2 linked regions of the Homo sapiens genome follow. The protein of the gene in region 1 purifies or fractionates together with the protein of each later gene. This does not show direct contact. Each region holds a gene or a part of one and is shown on either strand. Other genes may lie near its edges.

Region 1 (3,292 bases):
CTGGGAGGGTCCCGTCGTCCACCATCACTAAGGGCTGGCCATTCAGTTGCACTGACCTACAGTGAGGAAAAACAGTATGGGACTCATTATTGCATTATAAGGGAGCCACTGCAACAAAGCCTAGCCCCAGATGGCCTGGCAGTGTCTGATACACACACACAGCTGACACTTATTGTTACTGGCTATGCCCTAGATTCTGACCTAGGTGCTTTACTTTAATAACTCATTCAAACATCCCAACAACCCCCCCACTCCCCTGAGGTAAGTAACTATTAATATCATTATCCCCATTTTATCTAGAGTGGCTAGGTGACTTGTCCCAAGTCACACAGCTTGGAGGTCCAGGGTTTGAACCCAGGTAGTCTACCTCCATAGACACATTTAGACAAGTGAAAAGTCTGTGATGCAGAAGCTGGAATGTTTCATTCCTATTTTTTAAAAATCACAATATCAGCTCAGTTTGACTTTTCCACCTAAAGAGTTTTTACCTGTGGAATGATACATGGGCTTAAGATGACTTCAGAAATCTATTTAACTCATATCTCATTAATTTACTTGACAGATTAGATAACTGACATTACCTTGCTTGTCTAAGGTTATACGGAAGGGAGACAGAGACATAGGTAACACCTCTACTTTTTCTAATTTAAGAATGAGTTTTGGCTGGGTGCAGTGGCTCATGCCTATAATCTCAGCATTTTGGGAGGCTGAAGAGGGAGGATCGCTTGAGTCCAGGAGTTTGAGACTAGCCTGAGCAACATAGCGAGACCCCATTTCTACAAACAATATAAAAGCAAAATTAGCCTGGCATGGTGGCTACTCAGGAGTTTGAAGTGGGAAGATCACTTGAGCCTGGGAGGTTGAGGCTGCAGTGAGCCAAGATTACACCACTATACTCCATCCTGGGTGACAGAGAAACTCTGTCCCTAAAAAAAACAAAAAATGAGTTTTCATATTTAATATTAACAGATGTTTCCATTTAGCAAAACAGCAAAGTAAGTGATAAAGTAGGCATTTGTGATCACAATTCATCTATCTTGCTTTTATCCTTTCTGTATAGCCAGCCACTTTCACCCTGAGAAGGGGGACTACATACATAGCAAACTTAGAAAAGAGAAACAGCTCATCTTATGCTGGATAGAGGGAAATGCCACCTATCCTTGACCTATGGTACCAGAATCCAGATAATGTTCCAGCTGTTCCTGACAGCCATGCACCCAGGTGGAAGCTTAGTTTTATGGGTCAGCAGAAAAGGCCAGAAACAGGCCACCAGCTGGAAATAAGGTTGTGAGTCACCCTCAGAAAATCAACATTGCATAGTGATGACTGTTTCTGGGCCTTGCCCAACCTCCAGTGTGATAACATTGCCGTGACATCATCTGAGCTGTAAAGAGAATAGAATGTTATAAATTGATATAGAGGTCTTTGTTTAGTGTTCCTTCTGTGCTATGAATGATAGACTGCTTTAGAGAGAGATAATCAGACCCATGCCCAATAGAGCAGTGAATTCCCAGAGATAAGTGTGTTGTAAATTGCTCCCAATGGAGAGCTAGGCAGAGAAGAGATCCAGGCCTGGCCCCACATGGGTAAGTTTGGGCTAGGTCCAGATCTGATAGGCCAGAGGGAGCAGGCCCCCTCCCTTTGCTAGAATGACTGAGTGAATAAGTGAGTAGGAGGCTTCTATATGGAGAGCGAGGCCTGCCTCTGGAAGGCATGGGGTGGGAGAATTGAGATCTGAAGGTCAGTGTTGACCGCATCAGATATGCAAGGAGCTTTTGCTTCCAAATATGAGAAGTGACCCTCTGTAGTGAAGACAGCCTACTCATTGGAGTGGAAGGCAGGGTGAGGAGAGTGGTTCAGTTACAAAAGAAGCCCAGATGGGTCTTCACAGTGTATTTTCATTATTTTGTTTCAGGTGCTATGAATATCTATCACCCAGATATAAGCACAGTCAAACACGAGTTCAATAATACCGATTAATCTTTCTAAGGCATACTCAAATTTATATCAGGTCTCTGCTAGAAAACCTTCAATGGTTTCTCCCATATACAGAATTAGGTGCAAACCTTTCTTCTGAAGAATTAGGTAATGCCCTTTTAGATTCAGATGATCCCACAGTATTGACATCTTTGGGTTCTGGGGAGTGCAAAACAACGTGTGATTAGCAAACCTTTAAAAATCTATACTAATAAGGAGTAGTTGTCCTGGAACAGGCCCTATTCTGGTTTCTTTATTGGTTGGTTAAAAAGCTAAGAGTAGAACCAGGAAGCATGGTGAAGATTCTCTACTGAAATCTCGAATTCCAGGAGCCAAGTTGCTAACTAGCTAGATGGCTTTGGCAAATCCCCTAACCTCACTGCCCTGTAGCTTTTGCATCTGTAAGAACGTTATATAGGCACCAAAGAAATGAAATAAGAAATATGAAAGTGCTTTGAAAGCATAATGAACCATATACTTAAGATATGGTGTTTTTGTTGTTGTTGTTCTTTTTATTTTTATTTATTTATTTTTTTGAGATGGAGTCTCGATCTGTTGCCCAGGCTGCAGTGCAGTGGTGCATTCTTGGCTCACTGCAACCTCTGCCTCCTGGGTTCAAATGATTCTCCTGCCTCATCCTCCCGAGTAGCTGGGACTACAGGCATGTGCCACCACACCTGGCTAATTTTCGTATTTTTAGTAGAGACGGGGTTTCACCATGTTGGCCAGGCTGGTCTCGAACTCCTGACCTCAAGCGATCCACCTGCCTTGGCCTCCCAAAATGCTGGGATTACAGGCATGAGCCACCGTGTCTGACCTGTTGTTGCTATTGTTTTTAATGTCACTGTGGACAGATGCACTTGTTGGTCCTTATCATACCTGACTGCTCTGTGGTACTCACATTTTCAGGTCTCCATTCTCAAAACCCTCTCTCCCCTTGGCTCCCATGATATTTCTCTCTGTTTTCCTCCATTTCTGGATGGCGTTTTGTTTTCGTTTTTGTTTTTGTTTTTTTGAGAGGGAGCCATTCCCCTCTGCCTGCTTCTCAGATGCTAGGGTTCCTAGTGTTTTGTCCCTGGACTCTTCTGTCCCCACACTCTGCACTCCTCCCAGGTTGCTGCTGCTCTCACCCTTGACTTCGGTCACTATCCACAAGCTGATGCTCCCTAAGCTTGTATCTCTACCCTACCTACATTCTTTCTATGAACTTCTGTATCTCCACTTGGCTGTCCACAGGAATTTCAAAGTCACTAGGTCCAAATTCAAAATCTTCTCCTCAAACTCTGTCCTTATCTCTGCTTTTTTTTTTTTTTTA
Region 2 (3,654 bases), on another chromosome or scaffold:
CAAATGCCTGAAAATTCTTAGAACCAGTAAACATTATTTCTATTCTATGAATCCAGTTTATTTTCAATCTTACTGGATTTTAAATTTTAAATGTTTTCTGAAACAAGGGAGGATGTAAATGATTTAAATTAGCTAACTGAACAAATAGGAAACAAAAAATGAAAAAAGATAATCATACCTTTATATCAAAATTACAATCAAGTCTTCTAATTAACACGATGAAAGTGCCAGATGAATTGTCTTTTACTGGTGGAGGCACTATGGGTTCACAGGCATTCTCTGGTTTTGAGTTAATCAAAAAACCCTGAAAAAGAATTGGTAAAAATTATCTCTCTGTTTCACTCAGTAAATCAATCAACTTACTTCTACAAATATCTTTTCGATTTGTCATGTGTTTTGCATTATGCTAGATGTATCATTGGGCATGTAAAATTGCTCACAATCACGGAACTTCTAAAGCAGCATTTGCTTTCACAAGCATTTAGTTTTCTAAAATAAGTTCTATCTTTTGTATTGAAGTTAAAAAAATAATAATAATAAGCAAACTCAGGCATAAGCCAATCACCCCAAAGACAACCACTGGTATATTTTCGAACAATATTTGACATTTTCAAACCAAGCAAATATGTCTTAAAAATTAACTTTCTTTCATGTTAGCAGACAATGAAATGCACATAATAAATAAATTTCTAGAAATTTATTCTGCAGAAATGCTAGCCTGAGTATGTAAGGTGTATGTGGAAAGACAGTCATTGGTACATTATTTTTAATAGCAAAAACTGGAAATCATGCATATCCACAAGGTAACTATTTAAACAATTATAGTATATTTATACAATAGGAAAATAATGCAGCCATTTAAAAAAATAAGGAAGACCTGTATACACTAAACTGAAAAGACGTCCACGAGATAACCATGAATTTAAAAAGTAAACAGCAAGTTGCTTTCCCAGGAATGCAGGATGGTTTGACATAAGAAAATGTAGTAACAGGCTGGTCACAGTGACTCACATTTGCAATCCCAGCACTTTGGGAGGCCGAGGCAGATGGATCACCTGAAGTCAGGAGTTCAAGACCAGCCTGGCCAACATGGCAAAACCCCATCTCTACTAAAAATACAAAAATTAGCCGAGCATGGTGGCACACACCTGTAGTCCCAGCTACTTGGGAGGCTGAGGCAGGAGAATGGCTTGAACCCAGGAGGTGGAAGTTGCAGTGAGTCAAGATTCTGCCACTGCACTCCAGCCTGGGCGATAGAGCGAAACTCCGTCTCGGAAAAAAAAAAAAAAAAAAAAAATCTGGTAACAGACTAAAACAGAAAAATCAAATGTCTATCTTTTGTAAAAAGTGAATAAACACATAAAAAGATGATCAAATTCACTGATTTCATTTATAAAGGAAGGAGGCAATTAAAGCTATGAGACAATGCCTTAACAACAGTTCTGTATGGTCCTGAACTGGTCACACCAATCATCTATTCCACAGGATTTGGCAATTTCTCCTCCCTGAAATTATATTGCTCAGCTTGTGATATGGAAAGTGTTTGTACATATCTTGGGTATAAAATGTATCACTCTTTCATTTGCTCATATAATAGCTCCTCTTCTTAATCCCATAAAGCACTCGGTTTTTGTTTTGCAACGAAGTACAACTGTGGTCATCCTTCCAATGATGAATATTTGCTTTATTCTTGTTAAATTTGCATCCTGCTCTGAGTGCCTTTCTGCAAACACTAAGTTTTTGCTCCAATGCTAAATCATATAGTGTAGGAAATATTTTTCAACATGATTATTACAGCAATTAAACTCAAGCCATATAGGTTGGCTTCCAGCTCCAAAATGATGATGCAGAAGCAAGCTGGTTTGACTCCCCCCATAGAAAAAGAAAAACAAATGTACAGCAATGAGATTACGGCCAGAAATAAGCTAGAACTCAAATATAAGGAGAGATCATTCCCAGGGCCACAGAGAAGTAAAAAAAACTCCCAGCAGACAGAGAATCAGACTTCCACATCTACTATGCCCCTCCCCCCATTTTGCCGAGCACCAACTGCAAGGAAAATTTCCCTCCAACTCACTGTTTCTACACTGGAAAAGTAAGACCAAAGTGGAACCAGATTGCCCACTATCTTGGGTTCCCTAGGAGGAGATTTGTCCCTTCCTTAACCCACAGAAAGCATCACAAGTACCTGAAGGGAGAAATATCCATGAGGTAGATAGAGACTAAGAGGGGAAGCAGGACTACAATCCCTAGCCCTGGAAAGGAGAGCCCTCCTTTGTAATTCTACCAAAGGAGATGCCAAATCACAGTAGCTATTCAGTAGCACCATACAGTAGGTTTGTCCCACAGGTCCACTGGGCATGAACCTCCACAGTCAGCCTTCCCACAGTGCCAAGATATCCCTGTTGGGAACTGCCCCTTTGGGAAGGGCAGCATTTTGATAATTTACTAGAGCCAAGGTGAACCTAAGCTTAAGGCATCACCTATAGCCAAAAAGGAGGCAGTAACCTAGCAGTAAATAACCTCTAACCAAATACATCCAATAGAAACCAAAACAAGCCAGACAGAGAAGAACAGAATAAATAACTAATCTTTCAATGCAAAGACACTGACATACATCCACAAGAAACAAGAGCAAGCAGGGAACCATGATCCCCAAATGGACGAAGCAAGAAACCAACAAGCAACCCTAACAAGATGGCAATATGTGAACTTTTTTTTTTTTCTGAGGCGGAGTCTCGCTCTGTCGCCCAGGCTGGAGTGCAGTGGCGGGATCTCGGCTCACTGCAAGCTCCGCCTCCCGGGTTCATGCCATTCTCCTGCCTCAGCCTCCCAAGTAGCTGGGACTACAGGCGCCCGCCACTACGCCCGGCTAATTTTTTGTATTTTTTAGTAGAGACGGGGTTTCACCGTTTTAGCCGGGATGGTCTCGATCTCCTGACCTTGTGATCCGCCCGCCTCAGCCTCCCAAAGTGCTGGGATTACAGGCGTGAGCCACCGCGCCCGGCCTAATATGTGAACTTTTTAACCAAGAATTCAAAATAGTAGTTTTAAGGAAACTCAGTGATCTCCAAGATAACACAGAAAAGAAATTCAGAAATTTATCAGAAAATTTTAACCAGAAAATTGAAATAATTTTGTTTAAATCAAACAAATTTTGGAACTGAGAAATACATCTGCTGACCTGAAAAATTCATTAAAGGCTCTCAACATCAGAATGGATCAAGGAGAAGAAAGAATCAGCCAAGTCAAAGACAGCCTATTTTTTAAGTACACAGAAGAGAAAAAAGAAAAGAGTGAAAAGCAATAAAGATCTCCTACAAGATAAAGAAAATTACCTCAAAAGACTAACTCTAAGAATTATTGTGTTCAAGAGGGAGCTGAGCAAAAGTAAGGTATAGAAAGCTTATTCAAAAAAATAATAAAAAACTTTCCAAAACTTGAGAAAGATGTAAATAACCAGCTACAGGAAGGTCAGAGAACAAACAGATTTGACCCAAATAAGACTACCCCAAGACATACACTAATCAAACTCTCAAAGGTCAAGGACAAAGAGAGGATCCTAAATGCAGCAAGAAAAAAGAAGAAAATGATATACAAAGGAGTTCCAATTCATCTGGCAACAGACTTTTCATTGAAAAACAATACAAGCCA

Evidence for each region.
Region 2: the proteins of HPSE2 (region 1) and RNF13 purify together in Homo sapiens (affinity purification with mass spectrometry; one large-scale study listed by BioGRID and IntAct). This does not show direct contact.

What each region holds. Positions count from the first base shown.
Region 1 is NC_000010.11:98,459,684-98,462,975, forward strand, and holds part of HPSE2 (inactive heparanase-2 isoform 1 precursor), read right to left. Parts: intron 2,137-3,292; coding exon of another isoform or gene 2,103-2,136; exon of another isoform or gene 2,067-2,102; intron 57-2,066; coding exon 1-56. UniProt on the Homo sapiens protein: Binds heparin and heparan sulfate with high affinity, but lacks heparanase activity. Inhibits HPSE, possibly by competing for its substrates (in vitro).
Region 2 is NC_000003.12:149,868,679-149,872,332, reverse strand, and holds part of RNF13 (E3 ubiquitin-protein ligase RNF13 isoform 1 precursor), read right to left. Parts: intron 305-3,654; coding exon 179-304; intron 1-178. UniProt on the Homo sapiens protein: E3 ubiquitin-protein ligase that regulates cell proliferation. Involved in apoptosis regulation. Mediates ER stress-induced activation of JNK signaling pathway and apoptosis by promoting ERN1 activation and splicing of XBP1 mRNA.